Homo sapiens: one gene and its partners. The protein of the gene in region 1 interacts with the protein of each later gene in a biochemical or structural test. Each region holds a gene or a part of one and is shown in the gene's direction. Other genes may lie near its edges. The genes, in order: SUPT5H, CCNT2, UBR5 and MNAT1.

Region 1 (7,028 bases):
CTTGACCCCCCACCCCCGCCGCTGGCTCCTCTTCAGTTACCAGGTGAGGCAAGAGGGCACTGTGAGGCCTGTCCCCACTGCCAGGGACAGGATTGGATGGCCTTTTCAGACAGCCAAATGATGACATGGTCCTTGAAGGACAGGGTTCTGTGGCTAGACAGGTAGGGATGGCAAATAATGAGCTACTTTTGAGGGGAGCTGCTGGTTCACCCATCATGGCTCCAGTAACCTGTTCATTTATTCATTCAACAAATGTTCTGGCTGGGTGTGGTGGCTCACGCCTGTGATCCCAGCACTTTGGGAGGCTGAGGTGGGTGGATCACGAGGTCAGGAGATTGAGACCATCCTGGCTAACATGGTGAAACCCCGTCTCTACTAAAAATACAAAAAATTAGCGTGGTGGTGGGTGCCTGTAGTCCCTGCTACTTGGGAGGCTGAGGCAGGAGAATGGCGTGAACGCAGGAGACAGAGCTTGCAGTGAGCAGAGATCGCACCATTGCACTCCAGCCTGGGAGACAGAGCGAGACTGCATCTCAAAAAACAAAAAACAAAAAACAAATGTTCCTTGACTTGGCATGTTGGGGTCACAGTCTCCCTTACAGAGATCTCAGTCTCAAGGCAGAGGCAGTTTTATAGATACACAGTTACTGCAGGGGATGTTGAGGACGGTGAGAGCACATCCAAGCCCTGAGGTGAGCAGAGAGTGGTGGGGGCATCCTCCACTGGGAGGGAGGAGCCAGGTTTGGAAAGAGGCATCTCTGGGACCTGTCAGAGGGGAACTGATGACAAGGTTCCTAGAAATCAGCCTGTGGTCCTGTCATAGTTTGGGTTGTTAAAATGTGCTTCATCGTGGGCTAGTCGAGATTTGTGTTAAGCAAATATTTCTGAAGTCTTCTGTGCTTGGCCTTGGGCTGGGTGATGTTGGGGGACCCAGCAGTGCCTGAGATGGACTGGGCCCTACTATTGGGAGGCTCACAGTGGTCAGGGCTGTGATGGAGGGAGCCCAGAGAATTGTGAGCATAGAGGATGTGCCTGACTCTGCCTGGGGGAGAGGGGGCGGGGATGGCTGCCTGGAGGAGGAAGGTTAGTTTGGTTTTTTTTTTTTGTCTTGGTGTCTTGCTCTGTCACCCAGGCTGGAGTGCAGTGGCACGATCTCAGCTCACTGCAGCCTCCACCTCACGGTCAAGCAGTTCTCCTCTCTCAGCTTCCTGAGTAGCTGGGATTACAGCGGTGCGCCACCACACCTGGCTGATTTTTATATTTTTGGTAGAGATGGGGTTTCACCATGTTGGCCAGGGTGGTCTCAGAACTCCTGACCTCAAGTGATCGCCTACCTCGGCCTCCCAAAGTGCTGGGATTACAGGCATGAGCCACCACGCTAAGCCTTTTTTTTTTTTTTTTGAGACAGGGTCTCACTTTGTCACCCATGCTGGGGTGCAGTGGTGTGATCTCGACTCACTGCAGCCTCAGCCTCCTGAGGATCAAGCAATCCTCCTGCTTCAGCCTCCCAATGAACTGGGACAACAAGATTTTGCCACCATGCCTGGTTAAGTTTTGTATTTTTGGTAGAGACAGGGCTTTGTCAGATTGTCCAGGCTGGTGTCAAACTCCTGGGCTCAAGTGATCCTTCTACCTTGGCCTCCCAAAGTGTTGGGATTACAGGTGTGAGCCCCCATGCCTAGCTAAGGAGGGAATATTTTCGTTGAAGTGTGAATGGGAGGCACAGTTTTTTTTTTTTGGAGATGAAGTCTCACTCTGTCGCCCAGGCTGGAGTGTAGTGGCACAATCGCGGCTCACTGCAACCTCTTCCTTCTGGGTTTAAGTGATTCTCCTGCCTCAGCCTCCTGAATAGCTGGGATTACAGGCGCATGCCACTGCGCCCAGGCCCAGAGGGGACTTTTTATACAGAAAACCAGCATGGATGATGGCCAGCACTGAGAGAGTATGGTCCAAGTAGTTGAGTGCAGCTGAGGCCTAGTGTTGGGGAGGCAGTCCTGAATGGTGGGGAACGGGGAGAGGCAGCAGGCAGAGCATGTGCTTCTAGTTCAGGCTGGCTGAAGCTGAGCAGGGGAACAAATGGTCAGGTTCATGTTTTAGATTACAGTTTTCTAAGACTGTACCATATATTCTAGGTTGGGGATGATGAAAGGTGCTTTTAGGTGGAATAAGGACAAGACCTTAAGCTACATTGAATCATTTAGTGAGAATATTTCCTTTTCAGTTGTGTGTCTTATCTTGATTGGGTCATGAGAAAGTTTCATCTTAGTGCTACTGTGTCTTGAACGCCTCTGGGTGGGAGAACAGGCCTTAGGCTTAGAGCCTGCAGCAGGCAGCAGTATCTTGCTGGGTCTTAATAACATTGTTTTGCTTTTATCTTTATAGTTACCTTGTGTTTATGACAAACCTTCAAAAAGTTTTAAATTTTGAAACATTGCATAATATAAAAATGTTTTTATTTAAGAAGGTGAGTAGATTTGAAGAAAATACACATTGAGTATTATCTAAAATGCTTGGGACAAGAAGTGTTTCAGATTTTGGATTTTTTTTTTTTTGATTTTGTAATATTTGCTGTGGAGCGTTCCCTAATCTGAAAATCCAGAATGCTCCAGTGAACATTTACTTTGAGCATGACCTTTTTTTTTTTTTTTTTTTGAGACAGAGTCTTGCTGTGTCGCCTAGGCTGGAGTGCAGTGGTGCGATCTTGGCTCACTGCAACCTGTGCCTCCCAGGTTCAAACAATCCTCCTGCCTCAGCCTCCCAAGTAGTTGGGACTACAGGCGTGCCACCATGCCTGGCTAGGTTTTTTTTTTTTTGTATTTTTAGTAGAGATGGGGTTTCACTATGTTGGCCAGGCTGGTCTTGAACTCCTGACCTCAGGTGATCCGCGCGAGCCACCGCGCCCAGCCTGAGCATGACCTTTGAGCATTATGTCAGTGCTGAAAAAGTTTCAGATTTTGAAGCCTTTCAGATTTCAGTTTTTTGTTTGTTTGTTTTTTTGACAGTGTCTTGGTCCATTGGCCAGGCTGGAGTGCAGTGGTACAATCTCGGCTGAGTGCAACCTTCACCTCCCAGTTTCAAGCGATTCTCCTACCTCAGCCTCCTGAGTAGCTGGGAGTACAGGTGCCCACCACCGTGCTGGGCTAGCTTTTGTATTTTTAGTAAAGACGGGGTTTCACCACATTGGCTAGGCGGGTCTTGTACTCCTGATGTCAGGTGATCCACCCGCTTTGGCCTCCTAAAGTGTTGGGATTACAGGCATGAGCCACTGCACCTGACCAGATTTCAGATTTTTGGATTAGGGATGTTCAACCTGTATTAGGTAAATGGATTGTAGTAATGACATGGAAGAAGTCGTGAAGTTCATGAGTTAAAGACTGAAGTTTGGTATGCATCCATTAATGTTGTTTCTGGTATGGAAAGAGGGATTAGAGGCCAGGAGAGTAGGGAGGAGGCTGGGGTAAGGATCCAGGTGTTAGAGGGCAGTGTCCTGGCCTAGGCTCAGATATATGGGGCTGGGGGAAAAGGATGGGTTGGAGAAATGATGTTTACAGGCAGAAAGGATGAGGATTTGGTGCCTGTCGGTAATTGGAGGAGGCCATCACAGGTCTAGGGGAAGACACTGAGGTCAGTTTGGGACACAGTGAGTATGAAAGGGCTCAGAGGCCATCTAGGGGAGGCATCCAGGATGCTGCTGGTGCATGGAGGTCTTGAGTTCTGGAAAAAAGTGGGACTCTATAGACAGATGAGGACACGTGTCATCTCTAGAGACAGGAACTGAGGTCATGGAAAGTAAAATGGACAGGGAGAGAGGGCATGGAGGGAGAACAAAGTGGCCCTGGACTGAGCCCTGGTAATTGATGTCAGATTTGAAGGGGTTAACAGTAAGAGGAGCTTGAAGAGGAGCTGGTGGAGTTTTGAGAAAAACCAGGAGAGCATGATACGGCAGAAGCCAAGAGAGGAGCATTTCTCCAGGGAGGGCATGGTTGGGGTGCCAGATGCTGCTGGGATGGTAGGGAATACAGAATGGCCACAGAATTAGCAACAGGGGTGGCCAGTGATCTTCGTGAGCAGTGTGGACTAGAAACAGAGATGGGAGTCACTGTCACAGAGATGTCCACCACCGCCAAGGGAGAGGACGAGATGGCCTTGGGGAGTTGTAGAATGGGAAGAGATGGGCCAGGTGCTGTGGCTCACACCTGTAATCCCAGCATTTTCGGAGGCAGAGGCGGATGGATCACCTGAGGTCAAGAGTTCGAGACCAGCCTGGCCAACATGGTGAAGCCACGTGTCTACTAAAAAAATACAAAAATTAGCCAGGTGTGGTGGCGCACACCTGTAATCTCAGCTACTCAGGAGGCTGAGGCAAGAGAATTGCTTGAACCCAGGAGGTGGAGGTTGCAGTGAGCCAAGATTCTGCCATGGCACTCTAGCCTGGGAGACAGAGTGGGACTCTGTCTCAAAAAAAAAAAAAAAAAGAGAGAGAAAGAAATGAGGCCCAAGGACCAAGCTTCATCAAGCTATTATAGTTAAAGACTCGGTGGAAAGTGAGCAAGAGGTCTAGTGCAGGGAGAAGCCCGGGTCAACTCCCAGGGTTGCTTGGGTGGCTGGGGAGATGGCAGTGCTGTCGCTGAGATAGGATGGTAACCAGAGAGGCCAGGCTAGAGTGAAAGGGATATATGCAGAGCAAAGTGGGCTATGATTGGCCAGGCCAATCTGAGGTCAGATTTAGGGTGAGGAACTTGGTTTTTGGATTTTTGGGGTAGCAGAATTCTGGTGCTACAACCCTGCCTGACCCCTGTAGGTAGACGAAGAGCGGCGGAGTGCAGCGGGCAGTGAGAAAGAAGAAGAGCCTGAGGACGAAGAGGAGGAGGAAGAGGAGGAGGAATACGATGAGGAAGAGGAGGAAGAAGATGATGACCGACCCCCCAAGAAACCCCGCCATGGAGGCTTCATTCTGGACGAGGCTGGTATGTCATAGTGCTTGGCCAGTGCCGAGCAGAGGCTGAGCTTCTACTTTTAGTTCCATTTCTTTTTCTTTTTTTGAGGCGGAGTCTCGCTCTGTCGCCCAGGCTGGAGTGCAGTAGCATGAACTTGGCTCACTGCAAGTTCATGCCATTCTCCTGCCTCAGCCTCCTGAATAGCTGGGACTACAGGCGCCCGCCACCACGCCCGGCTAATTTTTTCTATTTTTTAGTGGAGACGGGGTTTCACCTTGTTAGCCAGGGTGGTCTCAATCTCCTGACCTCGTGATCTGCCCGCCTTGGCCTCCCAAAATGCTGGGATTACAGGCGTGAAGGACCAAAGTTCTTAACTTTTCTCGTGCTACGGCCCCTTCTGTAGTCTGGTGAAACCCTGTTCCCTTCTCAGAATCATCTTCTGAAATGCATAAAACAAAATACATAGGATTCCAAAGAGGACAATTTATTGAAGTACAGTTATCAGAATATTTAAAAAGAACATTTTGGTGCATATGTTTCTTTGTTAACATATTTAGGTAATAAGACTTTGTAGGTAGTCTGAGAATCTAATTTTCAAGTAGCAGTGAGTGTAAATGCTGCCTTGAGATACCTATAGCTGTAATGTGCTGTGAAAGAGCCAGTGACACAGCTAACATTGTGTGGTTTGTTGCCATTGTATGTAATTGATGTAAATGCTAAATTTCAATTCCAGGTTACTGAAAATAGGAGCTGTAGTTTTTTCATCGAACACAGACCACCCCAGATGAAAAATCTCTGTTCTACGTGTTAAATCCCTGTTAGTCAAATTGCTAGGTAAAGGTGGTGCATTTTGTTGTTGTCGTTGTTTTTTTTTTTTTTTTTGAGACGGAGTCTCGCTCAGGCTGGAGTGCAGTGGTGCGATGGCTCACTGCAACCTCTCCCTCCTGGGTTCAACTGTTTCTCCTGCCTCAGCCTCCTGAGTAGCTGGGACTACGGGCACGTGCCACCATGCCTGGCTAATTTTTTATATTTTTAGTAGAGACAGGGTTTCACTGTGTTAGGATGGTCTCGAACTCCTGACCTTGTGATCCGCCCGCCCTGGCCTCCCAAAGTGCTGAGATTACGGGCGTGAGCCACCATGCCTGGCCGCACTTTTTTTAAAAAAAGATTTTTTATATTTACGGCCAAATATCAGTTCCTAAAAAGATAAGACTAGTTCATACTTCCATGATGATAATGAATGTGCATGTTTTCCCTTACCTATGGGAAGAGGGGTTACTTAGAACACATCCTGCCTCTGTTTTCCTGGGACTGTTTTACCTGAGAAGAAAAGTAGTTTATTGTCAAAGGGACAGGAGGTGCTCTGGATGTTCTTGGAGAGCAAGAGAATGGATACCATGCTGGGTAAAAGCTGTGGGTTCCCAGGGACACCCATATGTTGGTGGTGGAAGTGTTGGTGGGCACTGCCTGTGTGGAAGGCTGTGTGGCAGTGCCTGTTAGCATTTAACATGCAGGAACCCTTTGACCAAGCAGTTCCTCTTTAGAATTTACTTTATGGTTAAACTTGCATGAGTGCATGAAGACCTGAGAACAAAGATGCTTGTTGTAGTCCTGTTCGCAGTTGCAAAAGTTTGGTGACCTAAATGTTTATTGATGATTAGGGCCTGGTTAAACAAATTATGGGCCATATAGTATATGAGGCATGTGCTGCTGTGGGAGAGCTCTGAGTTAGTAGTAGTTTTGAGAAAAAGAAAGGTACAGAACGGTGTGTTAAAAAAATTACGTGGGGGCTGGGCGTGGTGGCTCATGCTTGTAATCCCAGCACTTTAGGAGGCTGAGGCGGGTGGATCATCTGAGGTTAGGAGTTCGAGACCAGCCTGGCCAAGATGGCGAAACCCTGTCTCTACTAAAAATACAAAAATTAGCTGGGCGTGGTGGCGGGCGCCTGTAATCCCAGCTACTTGGGAGGCTGAGGCAGGAGAATTGCTTGAACCCGGGAGGTGGAGGTTGCAGTGAGCCGAGATTGCTGCACTCTAGCTTGGGTGACAGAGCAAGACTCGGTCTAAACAAAAAAAATTACATGGGGGGAAC
Region 2 (7,028 bases), on another chromosome or scaffold:
TTTTTTTTCGGGGGGGGGGTGGGGGACAGAGTCTCAGTCGCCCAGGCTATAGAGTGCGGTGGCGCAATCTCGGCTCGCTGCACCCTCCGCCTCCCGGGTTCAAGCAGTTCTCTGCCTCAGCCTCCTGAGTAGCTGGGATTACAGGTGCCTGCCACCACGCCTGGCTAATTTTTGTATTTTTAGTAGAGATAGGGTTTTCACCATGTTGGCCAGGCTGGTCTTGAACTCCTGACCTCATGATCCACCCACCTTGGCCTCAAAGTGTTAGGATTACAGGCGTGAACCACCACACCCAGCCAGTAGGCATAATCGTAATAAAAATAGTTTATATACCTGGTGCTGAAGTAAAAAGATCACAGAAAAGTAATCTGCCTTTTATCCTGTCTTTAGGTCAGAGGTTAGGTTGTGGTTTATGTGGGGTTTTTTGACACAGGAGGAGCTACCTCATTTCCATTCTGAAAAGTAAAGTTTGTTAATTTGGAGAGCAATTGAATAGGAATCTTGGAGAACTGATATGTTAAGACTTTCACCATGTTTTGCAGCAGCTTTTTTTTCTGTGTCAGTCACAAAAAGGCAATTCAAAATTAAAGACATGAAGGTGTGGCCGGGTGCAGTCACTCACATATCTTGAGCACAGGAGTTTGAGCCCAGCCTGAGCAACATGGCAAAACCACGTTTCTACTAAAAATACACACAAACCGGGCATGGTGGCGCACTCCTATAGACCCAACTACTGTGGAGGCTAAGGTGGGAGGATCACCTGAGCCTGAGACGTCAAGGTTGTAGTGAGCTGTGATAATGCTACTGCTCTCCAGCCTGGGCAACAGAGGAAACCCTGTCTGGGGGGAAAAAAAAAGACATGAAGATTTATCTGAATTGTAGAGTGAAGTGATACTACTATTCTTATTACTTACTGAAATAATTCACTTAATGATTGTGTTCCAGAAAAGAACATTGGCTTAGACAGTAGCTTTGAGAGAGAAGGGCCTCTATTTTAGGCACATACTGTGATTTTTGTGCATATAGCTAATTAATTATGTTAATGGATTATTTAACAGATTCTTTTGTTGTTCTGCTATAAAATTTAATACAGTAGGATACTTAAGAAAAACAAAGCTTACATTTTGTGTACGAGATTTTGGACCAGAACTTGAAGTGTATTTAATGTTTTACAACCAAGTTGTTAACAGAAATTGAGTCAAAACAGTTTTGTTAATGTTGGACCCAAAAGTAGAAAAATAGTCTTTTTTTTTTTCTTTTTTTTTCAAATGAGGAAGTAAAGGTCTGGGCATTAGGGTTTTTTTCATCCAAACTGGATGAAAAAGCTCATGAGACTTTAGCAGGGACTAGTCATGACATTGTCAAGGAAATTACATCTTGAAAGATTAATGGTTAAATTATAGCTTGTCTGAAGTGTCGATCTTAACATTGGCTTAGAATAGTTTACAAAAAAGCTTGCTATTACAAAATGAACCTGTAGTCTCTATTAATAGAGGTTCCCCCAGTATTGAGGTGGAATTGGCATTATTAATATTATATAATATTCTGATGTATTTGACTGATGAATATTTGAGAGTGGCTAGTAACTATTAATGACATTATTAGTTCATCAAAACCACACTACTTTGGAAAAGTGGGTCATTTGATTGTAATCAGAATTTTAAGAAAGTTGGTAGAAATTTACAATGAAGATAGTTTGCTAATATATTAATAGTGTTGATAGCTAGGAAGTATATTTGGAGGAATTTTCCCCTTTAAAAAAAAAGTCTGGGTGTGGTGGCTCACACCTGTAATTCCAGCACTTTGGGAGGCCAAGATAGGAGGATCACTTGAGGCCAGGAGTTTGAGACCAGCCTGGTCAACATAGCGAGACCCTGTCTCTGTTATTTAACAAAAAAAAGAAAGAAAGAAATGCAAAATATTGCATAGTTCCCTGTATACCCTTTAGCTTCTCCTGGTACTAACATCTTACATAACAATATATGATTATCAAAACTAGGAAGTTAACATTGGTACAATACTGTTAACTAAACCACAGATGTTATTCAGTATTCCATATTTTTCCCTATTCTAGGATCCCATGTTCCATTTAGTTGACATGTCCCTTCAAGTCTTCTCCAGTCTGTGACAGTTCTCCAATCTTTCCTTGTCTTTCATAACACTGACACTTAGGAGAATAATGGTCATTTTATACAGTGTTCCTTAGTTGGGGTTTGTCTGATGATTTCTCATTATTATGTCGAAGTTATCCATTTTGAGCAAGAATACCATAGAAGTAAATTGGGTCTTGCTTGGTGCATCATATCAAGGGGTACAGTATGTTGATACGTCTTATAACTGGTCATGACAACCGTGATCACTTGGTTACAGTGGTATCCTTAAAGTGGTTTCTGCACTTTAAAGTCACTATTTTTTTTCTCTTTGTAATTAATACATTTCATGGGGAAGATACGTTGGGATTATACAAATAACGTTTTTCCTCAAACTTTTGTCCACTAATTTTAAAGAATCTTTTGATAGATCTTGTCTGTGACAAAAATTATTGTGGTGTTTGCCTAATGAAGATTTTTTTTTTATTGGGGGGGTGATTATTTTTAATGCTACTAGATTTTCTAGAGATTCTAATTAAGCAAGTAAAATCAAGAGGGAAAGTAATCGTTACAAAAGGATTCAGCTTTGAAAATGCCGGTTGAGAGTTGTGTGTACTTCTGTGTATGCTGAGGATTTAATAGGAGGGTAAAAGTGAAGTAGATGAACTCCTAGCATTCCTTTTTAATACTGCCCACTTAAGAGAAATTTAAATCCTAAAGGCACCTTCTAAGTTTCAAATTTAAATTTTATTTTTAGAGCTAACACATGAGTTTCTACAAATATTGGAGAAAACGCCTAATAGGTTGAAGAAGATTCGAAACTGGAGGGTAAGAGAATTGACAGGGTTTAACAGAATTTCAGTCTTTTATGTAACATTTACATAGCTAACCAGTTTGAATTTTTGTGGTTAAATAATCTTTGCAGTATTCCTGAATAATTCAACGTATCTCAAGTTACATATACTCACATATTCAACTACTGAGTCCAGTGGACTTTGCTAAAGTACATTATACTTTTAAAAAATTTTTTGCAGTGATTATGACAAAAGTATCCTCTTCATTTTACAAATGGGGAAACTGAAGCCTAGACAAGTTAAATTACTTTCTGAAGTGCTGGGCTAGGATTTAACTTGTATCTGATTCTAAAATGGGTGTTTTCAATTTTTTATAGCCTTTTATGCCTCTAAGGCATTTATTTACTGACAACATAAAATCTTGAACCCCAGGTCATTTTATTTCCATATGTTTAATATATAATGTTTTTAATATATAACTTTTATAAGACAAGAAATTTGCATTAAATTATTTTGCTATATCACTGCTTCTTCTGTGTTTTATTTTAATAGGCTAATCAGGCAGCTAGGAAACCAAAAGTAGATGGACAGGTATCAGAGACACCACTTCTTGGTTCATCTTTGGTCCAGAATTCCATTTTAGTAGATAGTGTCACTGGTGTGCCTACAAACCCAAGTTTTCAGAAACCATCTACATCAGCATTCCCTGCGCCAGTACCTCTAAATTCAGGAAATATTTCTGTTCAAGACAGCCATACATCTGATAATTTGTCAATGCTAGCAACAGGAATGCCAAGTACTTCATACGGTTTATCATCACACCAGGAATGGCCTCAACATCAAGACTCAGCAAGGACAGAACAGCTATATTCACAGAAACAGGAGACATCTTTGTCTGGTAGCCAGTACAACATCAACTTCCAGCAGGGACCTTCTATATCACTGCATTCAGGATTACATCACAGACCTGACAAAATTTCAGATCATTCTTCTGTTAAGCAAGAATATACTCATAAAGCAGGGAGCAGTAAACACCATGGGCCAATTTCCACTACTCCAGGAATAATTCCTCAGAAAATGTCTTTAGATAAATATAGAGAAAAGCGTAAACTAGAAACTCTTGATCTCGATGTAAGGGATCATTATATAGCTGCCCAGGTAGAACAGCAGCACAAACAAGGGCAGTCACAGGCAGCCAGCAGCAGTTCTGTTACTTCTCCCATTAAAATGAAAATACCTATCGCAAATACTGAAAAATACATGGCAGACAAAAAGGAAAAGAGTGGGTCACTGAAATTACGGATTCCAATACCACCCACTGATAAAAGCGCCAGTAAAGAAGAACTGAAAATGAAAATAAAAGTTTCTTCTTCAGAAAGACACAGCTCTTCTGATGAAGGCAGTGGGAAGAGCAAACATTCAAGCCCACATATTAGCAGAGACCATAAGGAGAAGCACAAGGAGCATCCTTCAAGCCGCCACCACACCAGCAGCCACAAGCATTCCCACTCGCATAGTGGCAGCAGCAGCGGTGGCAGTAAACACAGTGCCGACGGAATACCACCCACTGTTCTGAGGAGTCCTGTTGGCCTGAGCAGTGATGGCATTTCCTCTAGCTCCAGCTCTTCAAGGAAGAGGCTGCATGTCAATGATGCATCTCACAACCACCACTCCAAAATGAGCAAAAGTTCCAAAAGTTCAGGTAGTTCATCTAGTTCTTCCTCCTCTGTTAAGCAGTATATATCCTCTCACAACTCTGTTTTTAACCATCCCTTACCCCCTCCTCCCCCTGTCACATACCAGGTGGGCTACGGACATCTCAGCACCCTCGTGAAACTGGACAAGAAGCCAGTGGAGACCAACGGTCCTGATGCCAATCACGAGTACAGTACAAGCAGCCAGCATATGGACTACAAAGACACATTCGACATGCTGGACTCACTGTTAAGTGCCCAAGGAATGAACATGTAATAATTTGTTTAGGTCAATTTTTCCTTTACTTTTTTAATTTAAAAATTGTTAGAATGGAAAAATTCCTTCTGATCTAGCAGTGGTAACCCCTGCTGTTGCTGCCACTGCTTCAATATTTGTAAGTGCTGCTTTATTCTTCATTCTGAAAAGAAGAGATTATAGTAAACAAGTCTTTATCTCCACATATGATAGTGTTATAAATACTGTAAAAGCATGGAAGGTGCAAAACTCAGTATTTCTACAATTGCAGCTAAGAACATTAGGATGAATGGCTGGCTGCTTCTAGGAATATAAGATGCCTCAAGCATTCATTATTTATGATTTGAATACTGTAGCTATTTTTTGTTGCTTGGCTTTTGAATGAGTGTAAATTGTTTTCTTTTGTGTATTTATACTTGTATGTATGATTTGCATGTTTCAATGATAAAGGGATAAAACAGTATACTGACAACTGTTTACAAGAAAGTGGAGAAAAATGTACATACATTTTTGTATGTTTAGATATTACCGTAAATACTCAGGATTGGAGCTGCTTGTAAGTATAACAATATACAGAATAACTTTATTTTATCTTGTCAGAGTCCATCACTAATCTAAAACAAAGGTGGCACTTTTTTATGTTAACCTTAAACTCTAGGCCTTACTGGAAGCCACTGATAGGGGACACTTCACTACCAGATGTGTGCAGTGCAACAGATGGTCATATACACTGTGAGGCACTGAAATTTTGCCTTCAGAGGTTCTGACCAGATTGGCTGCTGAAATAGCCCCTAACTTTCTGAAGGCTTGAAGAGGAAAAAATAAAGTTTACATACTCTTGATGTGAAGTGCATTTAAATGTTTGTTGGCTTGTTGCAGTTCTATGAAACAGAGCTGTTAATAATGGTTATGTGGATTACTGTGATTTGAAAACTAAATTCACAATAACTTACCTAGTAGAGATTTAGTGAGTTGTTTCCTTTAAAGAATTTTACACTACATATTTTAATAGTAAACAGGGATCACTTTTCCTTTAGCATTCAGAATGACACCATATTCTTAAATATACTCCTTCCCTGAAGCGTGTTTGTGTGTGATGCCATATTTCTTTTTCAGGTAAATGTAGTCTTCCTTATAAAAATGAAATTAAACCTATGCTCTCAATTCTTTTATATTCTAACAATAAATAAAAAAGAAAAGATTACTGACTGTGCATTGTACCTGTATTTATAGTTTATGGTTATCAGGAAGCTCTGTAAGAAAGAAAAGGTCAGCCTCCCAGGCAAACCAGTAGTGGAGGTTTTACATTTGTTTGCACATCTCAGTATATTTCTGTTGAGGTAAAGTTTGCACAGTCATCTGACTTCTGATCAAGCATTAGATTTTAACTTGTTTAGATTTTGTCTTAAACACCAGTAATATGGCTCTTGTTTATCAGCTAATCTTGAATTTATTCTGTGGTAAATCTTTTGAGTTGTTGAGTATATTTGAGATTGATTGGATTCGACCTCTTGTTGAACTGAAAACTTAATTTTTTCTCTGTATTTTTGTTACAAAGCCACTGATACGTGCACAATTGTAATTAAGTATGTTGCAGTTGTAAATATTAGAGTTTAATCTCATGCTCTACCTTTATTTAGCAATTACCTAATTTGCCAGTAGCTTTATAATTTTTAAAGATAATTGTTCATTATTTTGTCAATGTTATTTGAACTTGGGGTACTTAGGAGCCTCTTTGTAGGGACTGTGCCTAGGTAGCATGTCCTAACATTTGTTCTGGTCTTGCATAACTTCAGTAATCTTTGTCATTATATGTAACTTTGTTGCTCTGTATGGCATAATATTGTATCCATAAACATGGTAATTTTGATACAGTTATACTTTTACAGTGGTACATAATCCAAGGACTAGTATAGAATTAAGCTGAGTGCAAGATGAGGGAGGGAAGGGCTTTCTTGGTAATTTAGATGTGAAACCTCTACAGAGCTATCATGTAAAAACTACATAAGGTGGTTGTGCTACTGTATAATTGGGGGTGATAATACCAGGAATTTTAATAAGATTTTGTAAAGAATATCCAGAAAAGTAGTGAACTTATTTTCAGTAGACATAGAAAACAATGTGAATATTTAAGGTCTGTGACTATAGTTAAACTTCACTAAGAATTTGCAGAATTGTTTTGAGATGTGTGAAT
Region 3 (7,028 bases), on another chromosome or scaffold:
AATTAACTAGAATAAGCGTATTTTCATCTAAAGATAAAAACTTTACCAAGTTTTAGTAAGTTGGGGCAATAAAAAAGCTACTGCTACTGTAGCTTGACTTTTTTTATTATGAGAAATGTATGAGAGTCACAAATAAAATGATAATCATAGTTATGTATGAAAAGGGTGTAAATAGACTTTATACTTTGGAATAAAAGTAGTAAGATTAGACAGGCAGAATGGTACTGCAAATAAATTGCTCAGCTGAAGAAAACTTGGTCCTCAAAACAGTAGTGTTTTCTTCAAATACGTTTTCTTTCTTTACCCACATCCTCTTAAAAAGTCAAATATTTTGTTCAGCATCATAGTCTGATGTCTCAAGTGTCTAAAATGTACAAAGCATAAAAAAGTATCTTTTTTTCATAATTTGTGTTTTCAGACTTGCCAATAATGAATAATAATGATGCCAGGATGAAATTGACAAATACAGGTGGGGATGGCTGGGGTGGAAAGAAGAGGATGTTGGCTGTGACTTCCCAGAATGATTACAAGGTGCCTGGCACAGAATGCTGGGCCCTCAAGCAAATATTCATTGAGCTGAATTGAAACCATTCAGTGCTCAGATACTTTGGACATTTTGATCTCCTTTCCAATGGATTTCTTGAGTTAGTACTACGTTCCTGCTTAAAACATTGTCTCAGAGAAACAGTAAAACAATATAAAGAATGTGGTTCGTCGAGCTTGAGGGGAGAGCTGAAAGGCCTGCCTCACTAATAGCCTGGAAAGTGCCTCACTAATGAGCTGAAAAAATAGGCACAGAGATTTACAGTGTTTATGCAGGGATACAACTACTGAGAGACAGCTGAGGTCCACCTGATGGGTCTTCTGACTTTTCTTTAAAGTCCAGGGCTCCATTCCACTTCACGTGGCTTGTATTCCAGAATGGTTCTGCTGTCTCAGACATCCCAGCCTTCAGGCAGTGTGGCCACCTGTCTTAGTGTTTTGATTCCGTTTTCCCCTCAACTGCTCTTTCCAGGGCTCCTAATGGGTTTATGCCTTTTTTTCAGAGGCTGACGCTCTTAACCTTTTCTTGGTACTAGGTTAGGATAGGTCTTCTTAAGGTGATGTGGTTATGGCATTTATTGTCCTTGTCCTGAATTATTCCTCAAGATGCAGGTTAGTTACGAAACAAACCAGTTCTTATTGCTTGTCTGTATGTGGAATTTTCCTGTGAGATTTGCCTTTTGGCATTACAACGTATTGTGCAGTCATAAACAGTCTTTATTGAGATTGTCATATCAAAAGGATTTTTCTCTAAGCTTAGAGTTTCCCTTTCAGGTGTCATAACACAAGGTAAGATACTATAGACAGGAGTTTCAAACTCTGCGCTGGTAGCCTAGTCATTTAACCTCTTAGAACCCCCCACATCAATCTCTGAATTAGGTGTAGCACTCTCCTCAAGGTCAGGGAGGAACAGTTGAGACAGTAGATGGGAAAAGATCAATATTATAATGTGGATTCTACGGAAAACATTACGAAGAGATGGTTACTTTTAACTTTTTACGTGTTGCCTGGTTTCCAGATAGCAAAGCAGGAACTCAAAAGAGTTGCCCTAGAATATCCTTAGCATTCAGAGCAGAATCGACTCTTAGTTCTAGATTAGTACTTCTCAGCTTGGTGTGATTTTGCACCCTCCACACACAACCCCCTCCCCTTATTGGGCAGTGTCTGGAGACATTTTTTATTGTCACAGCTGGGGCATTGCTACTGGCCTCTAGTGGATGGAGGCCAGAGATGCTGCTAAACATCCTATAATGCATAGGATAGCCCCCACAACAAAGAATTACGGGGTCCAAAATGTCAGTTGTGCTAAGGTTAAGGAAGCCCATCCTAGATGATCTTCAATGCATTTGGTTGTAAAAATAAGTGAAAATGACTTTTATGAAGAATATTTCAAGCAATATACGTTCTTTTTTTTTTTCTTTTTTGAGACACAGTTTTGCTTTGTCTCCTAGGCTGGAGGCAGTGGCCGGATCTCGGCTCAATGCAACGTCCACCTCCTGGGTTCAAGCGATTCTCCTTCCTCAGCCTCCCAAGTTACAGACGCATACCACTATGTCTGGCTAATTTTTGTATTTTTAGTAGAGATGGGGTTTCGTCATGTTGGCTAGGCTGCTCTTGAACCTAACCTCAGGTGATCCATCTGCCTCAGCCTACCAAAATGCTGGGATTACAGGCATGAGCCAATGTACCTGGCCGCAATATATATTCTTAATTTTTAAAACATGACTGTTTAAATTAAGATTAAGGCCCGGCCAGTGGCTCATGCCTGTAATCCCAGCACTTTGGGTGGCTGAGGCGGGCGAATCACTTGAGGTCAGGAGTTCGAGACCCCTTAGCCTGGCCAACATGGTGAAACCCCATCTCTACTAAAAATACAAAAATTAGCTGGGTGTGGTGGTGGACGCCTGTAATCCCAGCTACTCAAGAGGTTGAGGCAGGAGAATTGCTTGTGCCTGTGAGACAGAGCTTGAGCCCGTGAGGCAGAGGTTGCAGTGAGCCAAGATCGCGCCACTGCACTCCAGCCTGGGCGACAGAGCAAGACTCTGTCTCAAAAAAAAGGAAAAAAAAATTAATTAAGATTGATTAAAATTAAATAAAAATTTAAGTCACTTCATCTGTAGCTAGTCACATTTTAAGTGCACTGTAGTGCCACGTAGCTACTCACTACCACATTGGACAGTGCAAATACAGAGCAGTGCCATCATCACTGAAAGTTCTCTTGGATAGTGTTGGCATAGAAAGTGTGTTTTTGCACAAGTCTTGGCATTCAGTGAGTGCTCATTATGTTTATTAAGAACTTTGAGGTTTTAAAGACTCAGGCATATCTTCACTCAGTAGGAGCCAGAAAATATGCCAGGGATTATATGAAGCATAACAAAGGTTGTGGTGAGTAGAGGTTATAATAGTTGAAAGCTGCTTGAAATTTTATTGTGGTGCACCAAAAAACAAAAAAACAAAAAAATCAATAAAAAAACCCCCCAGACATTAGGTTGTGTGGGATGGAGCATCATATTACCAAATCAGTGAAAAATCTCACCATTTGATTATTGAGATTGTTACCTAAAAGCAATACTAAATGCATTATGCCAGGTGCGGTGGCTCATGCCTGTAATCCCAGCACTTTGGGAGGCTGAGGTGGGCGGATCATCTGAGGTCAGAAGTTTGAGACCAGCCTGGCCAACATGGTGAAACCCCATCTCTACTAAAAATACAAAAATTAGCTGGGCATGGTGGTGCATGCCTGTAGTTGCAGCTACTCAAGAGGCTGAGGCAGGAGAATTGCTTGAACCTGGGAGGTGGAGGTTGCAGTGAGCCAAGATTGCGCCACTGCACTCCAGCTTGGGTGACAGAGCGAGACTCCATCTCAAAAACAAAAACAAAACCAAAAACAAACAATAAAAAACCAATACTAGATTTATTGTATTGGAAAAGTACAGTCTGGCCTAACTAAAATGTTTAAATGAATTTGCTTAAGTAAGATTAACAGCAGGGTGTAGAATAGCCAAGCAAAATAGAAAATCAAAACAAAGGCAGAGCAATTTTATAAATCAGGATATCTGTGACTGAATCATAGGCCTAGGAATAAACAGACACTTGTGAAGAAAATTACAGGATACACAGGAATACGACTAGGAATAATAGGTGAAATTAGGAAAGGTCAGGGTTTTTTCCCCTAACAATTAGACCATTAGGTTATTTAGGAAATAGTTTCCAAAGGAAAATTTAATTGCTGAAGACTGAGTTACATGGACGTAGATCTTATAAGGTATATTAAAGGAAGCAATTTTATGTTACAGGAGGATGTACTTAATGTCTCCCCTCCCTCATTTTATCATACATATTTATTTTGTTTTTTGAGTCTCGCTCTTGCCCACGCTGGAATGCAGTGGTGCCATTTTGGCACAATCTTGGCTCACTGCAACCTCCGCCTCCCGGGTTCAAGCGATTCTGCTGCCTCAGCCTCCTGAGTAGCTGGGAGTACAGGCGCACGCCACCATACCTGGCTAATTTTTGTATTTTTAGTAGAGATGGGGTTTCACCGTGTTGATCACGCTGGTCTTGAACTCCTGACCTCGTGATCTGCCCACCTAGGCCTCCCAAAGTGTTGGGATTACAGGCGGGAGCCACTGCGCTCGCCCATATTATACATATTTCTAATTAAGAAAACAGACTCTAGTTAGCATCCATGTTTCTGTCATTTTGACTCCTTGGCATTCTGGTCATGTGAAAATAGCCTCTTCTCTTGGCTCACTGTGGTTATGAATTGTTGGTTTATTTTTAGAACTGGTTTTTAAGTTTTCCCCTGAGTATTATTTTTAAGCCTTTTATTTTGGAAAATTTTAAGCATATACAAGAGTAGAGAGAATAGTATGATGAACAACCATGTTCCCATCACACAGTCTTAACAGTTGTCAACTCATGGCCAATCTGATTTCAACTCTCTCCCCATTTATTCTCCTCTATCAGGTAATTTAATTGCTGTATCTTCACTATATATTTCAAAATATGAAGCCTTTAAAAAAAAACCTGAAAAAACCTTAATAACAAAATTGCCCAGATTTTCCTGTTGTCTCATAAATGCTTATTTCTGATTGACAATTTTGATAATTTTACTTAATAAAGCTGATTGGGTTCTAACATGTTAAAAAATTTGACATTTGTAGAATAACCTTAGAATTTGGATTGTAACCTTAGAAGAAGGGGCCACTGGGGAATTATTTAGTTCCTTAAAGCTCAGTGCTGTAACTTTTTTTTTTTTTTTTTTTTTTTGAGATGGAGTTTCGCTCTTGTTGCCCAGGCTCGAGTGCAGTGGCGTGATCTCTGCTCACTGCAACTTCCGCCTCCCGGGTTCAAGTGATTCTCCTGCCTCAGCTTCCCAAGTGGCTGAGATTATAGGTGTGAGCCACCACGCCTGGCTAATTTTGTATTTTTAGTGGAGACGGGGTTTGACCATGTTGGTCAGGCTGGTCTCGAACTCCCGACCTCAGGTGTTCACCTGCCTTAGCCTCCCAGGGTGTTGGGATTACAGGCGTGAGCCACTGTGCCAGGCCTCAGTGCTATAACTTCTTAACCTCCGGTATGACAGCATTTTTTGTCAGCAGTCACTTGTAATTGTTAGATAAGGATGATAAGACAGGATTCTTGAAATTCAGTGATTTTTCCATGGGGTCACTTTGAGAAATAAGATTGTCATGTGAAAAGTTTGCAGCATTTTCATGAACTAATAGACAGGTGAGGTATTAGTCAATTGAACTTGGCTATAAGAAATTATTCTCTGAGATCATATTTCTTATTACTTTCTTGAGACAATCAGTGTAGTGGTAACAAAACCCCTTCCAAATTAGAAATACGATAAATTCTTAGATAACCATGCTTTGTAACATTGTCATTTTGTCAGGATATTAAAGAAGGTATTAATATTTAATGTTATTTTACTTGTAAATACACAATTTATGTTACTTGCACAGCTAAAGTACTGTTATTTGTTCAATTTCTGACAGTATCACTTAATAAAATGTCTTTGACTCTTTCATCTTTATTGAGTTATACTTTACATTCAGTAAAATTAACCCATTTTAGGTGTACAGTTTGATGAATTTCGGCAAATGTGTACAGTTGTGTAATCACCACCACAATCCAGGTACAGGACATTTTCATCACCCCAAAAAGTTACCTGGTTTCCCTTTGTATTTTCAGTCACTTCCCCCTAGGCTAGGTCCTGGCTACCTAGCAACCATTGTTCTGCTTTCTCTCACTGTAATGCTTTTCCTTTTTGAATTTCATAGAAATGGAATCATGTGTCTGTTTTCTTTTGCTTAGAACAGTGCTTTTGCAACAGATCTGTGTTGCAGCATGTAGTAGTTTCTTCTTTTATATTAAAAGTAGTATTTTCATTGCTTGACCTGGGAAGGTGGAGGTTGCAGTGAATCAAGATTGTGTCATTGAATTCCAGCCTGGGCAACAGAGTGAGACTCTGTCTCAAAACAAACAAAAAAAGTAGTACTTATTTCATGACTGTACCACAGTTTTTAAATCTGCTTTCTAGCTGATATAAATTTGGGTAGTTTACTCTTTCTAGCTATTCTCTAGTCTTTATTTTTTTCTTGTTTATTTATTATTTTAATTTTTTTTGAGACAGGCTCTTGCGCTATTGCCCAGGCTGGAGTGTAGTGATGTGAACATGGCTCACTGCAGCCTTGACCTTCTGGGCTCAAGCGATCCTCCTGCCTCAGCCTCCTGAGTATCTGGGACTACAGGCTTGCATTACCACATCTGGCTAATTTTTAATTTTTTGTAGAGATGGAGTCTCTCTGTGTTGCCCAGGCTGGTCTCGAACTCCTGGGCTCAAGCAATTATCCCGTCTCAGCCTCTCCAAGGTGCTGGGATTACAGGCATGAACCACTGTGCCTCGCCTTATTTATTTCTTTAAAATTAGAGACATGGTCTTGCTGTGTTGCCTAGGCTGGTCTCAGACTCCTGGCCTCAAGCTGTCTTCCCACCTTGGCCTCCCAAAATGCTGGGATTACAGGCAGGAGACACCATGGCTGGCCTGAAGTTTTTCTTGGCTTCAATTTATCACAATGTTTTTCATAGGAAAAGTCCACTGATAATAAAAACCTAGATTTTTCTTGACAGCAAATTTTTGTGTTAATTAAAAAACATACTAGTATATGTAAAAAGATTATATTTTAGAATTCCATTAAATGTAATGGTTGTATTCTAGATTGCTAGTTATAAAGATGATGATAGTGGCTAGTCGACAAAGCACTGTGATGAATGGATCAGTAGATAAGTTTTTATTTTCTTCCCCATGAGTTCAGGCTCCATTTCTGTGATATAGAAGTGTCGAGAACCTGCCGTTTCAAGAAATTGGCTCTGCTCCAGCATGAATCTGCTGTTCAGAATTCAGGCGATGAGGTATTCCAGGTCTTTACTTGAATTCAGATACCAGGTCTACCTCACAGACAACCTGGAACTCCAGAGAT
Region 4 (7,028 bases), on another chromosome or scaffold:
TTTAAGTTTTGGTGCCAGTTTATCCTTTATTTTTCTTCTTAAGTTCCAACTCCTTTATTTCATACGTTTCTAGAGCTAGACTACAAGGGAAGTAATTCAAGCCTGTGTCTACTCATGTTGGAGACAATTGGAATGGGGATAAAACCTGTTTTTTGTTTGATATAAATTATAAAAATATATGATTTTTTAACTCTTTTTTTAAAATTCTGATTCTTGTAGTAGATTCCAGACTTACTCTTTATATTAAAAAAATTTAAACAATTTTTTTATGCTTTTAAAGCTAGAGAGGGGACTATAAAAATCAGATCTAAGCACATATCTTAGGTTTTCTGGAGTGATCCTGACATTTAGGTATTTTGTGCGAGTCAGACAGTCTGTCCTTGTGTTTGGCTTGGAAAACATGTTTGCCGTAACTAGAGCTAGTCTCTAAAATAGGTAGCTGATTAAAAGGTCACAAATAGAGCTATAAAGAATGACAACCTAACAAATGAGTCACTGTGGTATTTGTTTTTTATTGTCTACTCAAGATTTATATTAAAAATATTTTTCATGTCATCGTTTCCTTTCTAATGCAGTTTTCAACTTGACCAACAATGTGGATTTGGACAACACCAAAAAGAAAATGGAGATATACCAAAAGGAAAACAAAGATGTTATTCAGAAAAATAAATTAAAGCTGGTCGGTTGCTAAGTATTTTCTTCTTATTTTGTCTTAGAAACAAATGTTTCCACATGATACTTTAAAAAGCCATCTTCCTTTAAACCAGTTACATTTATAGAAAATTTAGCTGAAATTTAGACCAGAAATATGAATATATGCTGTATAGGTATGTAGGTAGGCAGGCACACATTACTGTAGCAAAAACCACTTTGACAGCATTATGTTAGACTGTGCTTTCTTAAGGAAGTGGATCCGTAAGATAGGTGATTGTTAACGCTAGTTTTATCTGCCTGTATAATCTTCTGGTAAGTGAGCATTTGGACAGTGGTCACAAAACACTGGAGGCTCATTTTTATCCTTGGACATTAATTTCTCTAAAGGAGAGAGAAAACCCAGACAGACGGTGATGGAGCTACCAAGAGGGAGATAAAACAAAAACACTATTTATTAGAAACTAAAATGAATTCATGATTAGATCAGAGGAACACATTTGTAAACTAAGGTTAACTTTGGTTTCTCAATTAGTTACCTTTTTTGTTTTACCGAAAGAGTAACATTGCTAGATATAAATATGATTTTGGTTTGTTTTAGTTGATCTCATGTTGAAGTTTGTTTTGAAAATATCTCAGGAGTCATTATTATTATATGTATTAGAATGTATTCTATAAAGAAAAAATTGTATGCATGCAAAGGAGCAATTGTCTAATTTATACACTTTAGCTATCATTTCTATAGTACAGTTTGGCTTTCTAGTTGTAGGGGAAAGCAGAGGTAATTACGTTTGAGATACTTTATCAGGATTTTGTAATAATCAGTGAAAAGGATACAAGTATATTTGGATCACATAGCTTATATTTTCATTTTGTATTTAGAAGAGACTTCCTCCTTGTAGTCTTATAGTGTTTTATATCAGCATTTCTTTCCTGCTGTAAAACTCTCAATGAATTGATACTACATTTTCATTCCATTCATAGCTAGCCTAGCTTTCTTTTAAAAGTATCTTATTTCTGAGAGCATCAGTATGTCATTAATGTTACTCTCTTTGCCTAGTAACCTTCTCTGGGAACATCAGAAGATACATGCAAAATAGGTATGCGTAGGTAAAATGTTTCATTAACCCCAGGTGTTGGTATTACAGATGTGAGCCACCACTTTTATCATGAAAGGGCGTTACATTTTATCAAAGCCTTTTCCTGCATGTATTGATATGATTATGTGATTTTAATTCTTTATTTTGTTAATGTATATTAATTGATTTTGTATGTCAAACCATCTTTCCATCCCAAGGATAATTCCTGCTTGGTTATGTTGTATGATCCTTTTAATGTGCAGTTGGATTCAGTTTATAAGTATTTTGTTGAGAATTTTTGCATTTTTGTTCATCAGGGATATTGGCTCACAGTTTTCTTTCCTTGTGGTACCTTTGTCTGGTTTTAGTATCAGGGTAATAATGCTGGCTTCATAAAATGAGTTTGGAAGTGTCTCCCTCTTCAATTTTTTAGAAAGGTTTGAGAAGGATTGATATTAATTCTTCTTTAAATGTTTGGCAGAATTCACCACTGCCGCTTTTTCTCTGTTAGGAGGTGTGATTACTGATTCAGTGTCCATACTAGTTCTAGGTCTTTTCAGATTTCCTGTTTCTTCATAATTTGGTCTTGGTAGGTTGTATGTTTCTAGGAATTTGTCCATTTCTTCTAGATTAACTGAAGCGTAATATAATTAAGTGTTGGTGTATAATTGTTCATAGTAGTCTCTTATGATCCTTTTATTTCTGTGGCATCAGTTGTAATGTCTCCTCTTTCATTTCTGATTTTGAGTCTTCTCTCTCTTTCATAGTCTTGCAAAGAGTTTGTCAATTTTATATTTTGAAAAAACTTAATTTTGTTAATTTTTTCTGTTCTTTTTCTGTTTTCTATTTCATTTATTTTTGCTCTAATGTTTGTTATTTATTTTAATCCTTTGTTCTGCTTACTTTGAGCTCAGTTTGTTATTAAATTTCTAGCTCCTTGAGATGTAAAGCCAGGTTGTTATTTGAGATCTTTCTTCTCTTTTAAAGTAGGTGTTTATCACAAGAAACTTCCTTCTTAGTACTGCTTTTTTGTATCCCTCAAGTTTTGGTATGCTATGTTTTTGTTTTTGTTTGTCCTGAGGTATTTTCTAATTTCCTTTTTGATTTCTTCTTTGACCCAATGATTATTTGAGTGTATTGTTTAATTTTCACATATGTGCATATTTGTGAATTTTCCAGTTTTCCTTCTGCTATTGATTCCTGGTTTTATTCCATTGTGGTCAGGAAAGATACTTGGTATGATTTCAGTCTTCTTAAATTTGTTAAGACTTGTTTTGTGACCTAACTTGTGACCTATCCTGTAGAAAGTTCTGTGTGTGCTTGGGAAGATCGTGTATTCCGCTGCTGTTGAGTAGAATGTTCTGTATATTTCTGTTAGTTGTTATAACAGAAATATACAGAATTATAAAGTTGTTTAAGACTCCTATTTCCTTACTGATCTTCTTTCTGAAAGTTCCATCCATTACTGAATGTGAGTTAAGTCTCCTACTGTTACTATATTGCTGTCTATCTCTCCCTTCAGTTGTCAATGTTTGCTTTACATATTTAGTTGTTTATAATTGTTATATCTTTCTATATGTTGATCCTTTTATCATTATATAATGTTCTTTGTCTCTTTTGACAGTTTTTTAATTAAAGTCTATTTTGTCTCTTATTATGCTCTTTGTTTCAGTGAATGGTGCCAGCATTCATCCAAGTGTTCAATCCATATTTGGTCAGTCTTTATATTCTGTTGATGATCACTCCTTATCATTTTTAAGCCTCATCCCCACTCTAATTAGATTATTACTTTATTTAGGGCTCTTATTTCTATTCTTTCTTTTTTTTTTTTTTTTTTTTTTGAGATGGAACCTCGCCCTGTTGCCCAGGCTGGAGTGTAATGGTGTGAACTTGGCTCACTGCAACCTTCATTTCCTGGGTTCAAGCGATTCTCCTGCCTCAGCCTCCCGAGTAGCTGGGATTACAGGCATGTGCCACCATGCCTGACTAATTTTTTGTATCTTTAGTAGAGACAGGGTTTCACCATGTTGGCCAAGCTGGTCTCGAACTCCTGACCTTGTGATCCACCCGCCGTGGCCTCCCAAAGTGCTGGGATTACAGGTGTGAGCCGCTGCGTAGGGCTCTTATTTCTTATCTGGGTTATTTGAATATACTTCTAACTAGTCCTCCTATTGTCAGTCTTGAACCCAATTGATCTTTATGTATACCTTACTGCCTCTAGTCATCTTTCTAAACTCATCCCTCAAATTCCCTTAATATGTTCCCAGTGGCCTTAGTATAGCAAAATTCCACTAGTATGGTATAACAGAATAGTTGTTTTATTTAATAGTAACGTGTCTACATGAAATAAAGTAAATTCTATTTTCTTCAATATGGAATTGCTACATTATTAAATAATAAGTGACTAGTGTGTTTTATGCTTCCAATAAAGAAAGTATTAGAGTGTGGTATATGATTGCTCTTGGCTCCTAAATTTATTCCACGCCATATATAAATTTTTGTTTTAGACTCGAGAACAGGAAGAACTGGAAGAAGCTTTAGAAGTGGAACGACAGGAAAATGAACAAAGAAGATTATTTATACAAAAAGAAGAACAACTGCAGCAGATTCTAAAAAGGAAGAATAAGCAGGCTTTTTTAGATGAGCTGGTATGTATTAATGCTAATTGTGATTGTAAAAAACATTCTTCAGGATTTACCTTTCCTAGTAGGCTGGATGATGGCATTTAAAGGGCTTTTCCACAGTGTTTGTAATCTGGTTCACCTTTAGTTTTGTTGGTTATGTATTGATATCAGTGTATTTATTGCTGAATAAGAGGTTGCCCTCCATCCACACTGAACAATATGTTTTTATGCTCACAATTCTGTGGGTTAGGAATTTAAGTGGTTCTTTTGGGCTTTTCTGCTTCCCTAATGTATTCTCAGGACACCTCTCCATGTGGTTTTGATAGCGACAGGAGGCAGCCAAATGCCTAGGCAGATAGGGACGGGTACCCAGAGAAACCCCATCTCCATGTTGAAGACAGTTTAAAACCTGAAAGCCAAGCTACAAGTTAAATCCTTGGACCAGATTGAGAACTTGTCCTCCTGTTTGGTGTGCTTTCCTCTGATTGATCCCCACTCTTCACCTATTTTATGTATATCTACCCTTTCCTAATTGGTTTTCTACACTGTCATGCCCATCTTTGAGTAGTGTCTTCACTTCAACCTTTTTTGCTTACTCATAAGCTAATTCAGCACATTCTCCTCATCCTGTGCCTATAAAGACCCCAGACTCAGTAAGTAGAGGAAGAGACAACCTGACTTCGGGGAAGACGACTTGCTCTTCCTGTCCCCTCTCCAGCTCCCCTCTCTGCTAAGAGCTGTTTTCATCGCTCAATAAAATTATCACCTTCGCCATCTTTTAACCATCCCTGTGACCTCATTCTTCTTGGATGCCAGACAAGAGCTTGGGACCCACCAAGTGTGGGTACCCAGAAAGGCTGTCACACTGGCACTTTGCCCTTCCTGGTGGAGAGCAGCTGCCCTAGGTGACAAGGCCAGAAGCCAACTGAGCTGCCAACACACTGTTGTCTGATGGCAGAACTAAAGGAGCACTGTAACACTTCCCCTGGGGCTTTGGGGTTGTGGGCCCCCTCACCTGGGCACTGCCATGTTCCCCTTGAGGCAACATGCCTGGTCTGGCTGTGGGCCCCACGTAGAGTTTGCTTCTGTGTCCGTGCCTGGGGCGGATGGCTGGGTCCTGCACTTGCTTGCTTGTGTCTGGTCTGACTGCGGGCCCCATGCAAAACTTGTTCCTGTATTGGTGCTTGGAGCAGCTGGCTAGATCTGCGCTGACTCACCCACGTGCTCCCTCCCACATAGAGTTGAGTGCAGTGGGTCTAGTAGAGGGGAGTCCTTACCGTGAATCTAGTGAAGGGGCTGACTACATCAGAAACTGCATCAATTTCTGTAACAGTGTGATTGTACTTCTCACATGTTGGCTCAGGGTTACAAGAGAGAATATCCCAAGAATAAGGAGGTAGAAGATGCTAACATTTTAGGGCTTGGGCTAGGAAACTGGCACAGCACTGATTCCACCATATTAGTAAAAGAGCCCACTCAGTTACAAAGGGAATGGATATAGATCTCACCTCCTAATGGGAGTGTGATGGCCATCTTTAGTCCACACAGTATGTACTGGGGAAAACTATGTTTTTCTAGAATTTGGCATAATATAAATTCATTTGGGATACTCAGTCTCTATCCCAATGTGAGTTTAGTGATAAGAATTATGAAAATGACTTTCATTTTCATATTGTAGTTTGTCTTACCCTTATGCCTATTTATTTATATCATGCCAACTACTATGAAGGATTTAAAGTGATTTCCTAGATAAGAGTATTGTTTGTGGACATGGCACTACTTACTTTGTGTAACTCTAAGAACGATGTTAAAATGAGGTTCTAGTATATTTTACTTCTATATTTTTAAAAAGATTTTTGTTTAATATCCATTTTATTTTCAGATGAGAGAGTGACATTATAACTGAGATGAGCCAGTATATTCTTGATAGATTGTTTATATGGCTTTAAGCTAACTGACTAAAATACATTGTTTCTGAAGCACTTTTCTCCTGATTAATACTATTTTTCTAATAATGAGCTCATTTTGGCTCCATGCTGAAGTTTATATTGACTGTTTACTTTGTGACAATATATTTTATATTTTTGCATAAAAAAATAGTGTATTTTTGCTTGAAAGAAATAGCGGGGTTTTTGCAAATTATTGTTTTCCAGCAATTAGCTTCCTAGGTAGTCAACCTTGTTAGATAATGACAGTAATAATAACTAAGGTTTATGAAGTGTTTCATGGATTTATTACTATATTATTTGATACTTATAACCCTGTATGATATTGATGACTTCACAAACCGGAAAATCTTCCTCTCCAGGAAAGTCTTTTTGCATTCTTCTCTTTCCCTTTATGTTCATATAATTTATTTCCCTGAGGCTTTTGTGTTTGTGTGTGTGTGTGTGTATGCAGTGTTAATACACTTAACTTTCTTGTCTAGTTGATAATGCTATTATCCTATGATTGGGGAAAATATGTATATATGTGTTCTTCTACTGTGCTTTTGCCAAAAAAGCATTTAAGTCAGTTAACCAGGAGTAAAAAAAGAGAAAGCAAGATTACTTAAATTATAAGGAGGTGAGAAACTAAAGGAAAAATAAGGGTAAGGGCATTCATGAGGCTTAGATAGAAAACACTGTCATAAAACTCTATTTTCTATGACTGGAATGTGAATTTGGCTCTAAAA

The links.
Region 2: of the proteins of SUPT5H (region 1) and CCNT2, one has a biochemical effect on the other in vitro, tested with the Homo sapiens proteins (one study listed by BioGRID).
Region 3: of the proteins of SUPT5H (region 1) and UBR5, one has a biochemical effect on the other in vitro, tested with the Homo sapiens proteins (one study listed by BioGRID).
Region 4: of the proteins of SUPT5H (region 1) and MNAT1, one has a biochemical effect on the other in vitro, tested with the Homo sapiens proteins (one study listed by BioGRID).

What each region holds. Positions count from the first base shown.
Region 1 is NC_000019.10:39,448,555-39,455,582, forward strand, and holds part of SUPT5H (transcription elongation factor SPT5), read left to right. Parts: intron 1-4,801; coding exon 4,802-4,967; intron 4,968-7,028. UniProt on the Homo sapiens protein: Component of the DRB sensitivity-inducing factor complex (DSIF complex), which regulates mRNA processing and transcription elongation by RNA polymerase II.
Region 2 is NC_000002.12:134,949,794-134,956,821, forward strand, and holds part of CCNT2 (cyclin-T2), read left to right. Parts: intron 1-2,847; coding exon 2,848-2,918; intron 2,919-3,436; coding exon 3,437-4,855; 3' UTR 4,856-7,028. UniProt on the Homo sapiens protein: Regulatory subunit of the cyclin-dependent kinase pair (CDK9/cyclin T) complex, also called positive transcription elongation factor B (P-TEFB), which is proposed to facilitate the transition from abortive to production elongation by phosphorylating the CTD (carboxy-terminal domain) of the large subunit of RNA polymerase II (RNAP II).
Region 3 is NC_000008.11:102,402,692-102,409,719, reverse strand, and holds part of UBR5 (E3 ubiquitin-protein ligase UBR5), read left to right. Parts: intron 1-7,028. UniProt on the Homo sapiens protein: E3 ubiquitin-protein ligase involved in different protein quality control pathways in the cytoplasm and nucleus. Mainly acts as a ubiquitin chain elongator that extends pre-ubiquitinated substrates.
Region 4 is NC_000014.9:60,807,750-60,814,777, forward strand, and holds part of MNAT1 (CDK-activating kinase assembly factor MAT1), read left to right. Parts: intron 1-575; coding exon 576-679; intron 680-4,237; coding exon 4,238-4,378; intron 4,379-7,028.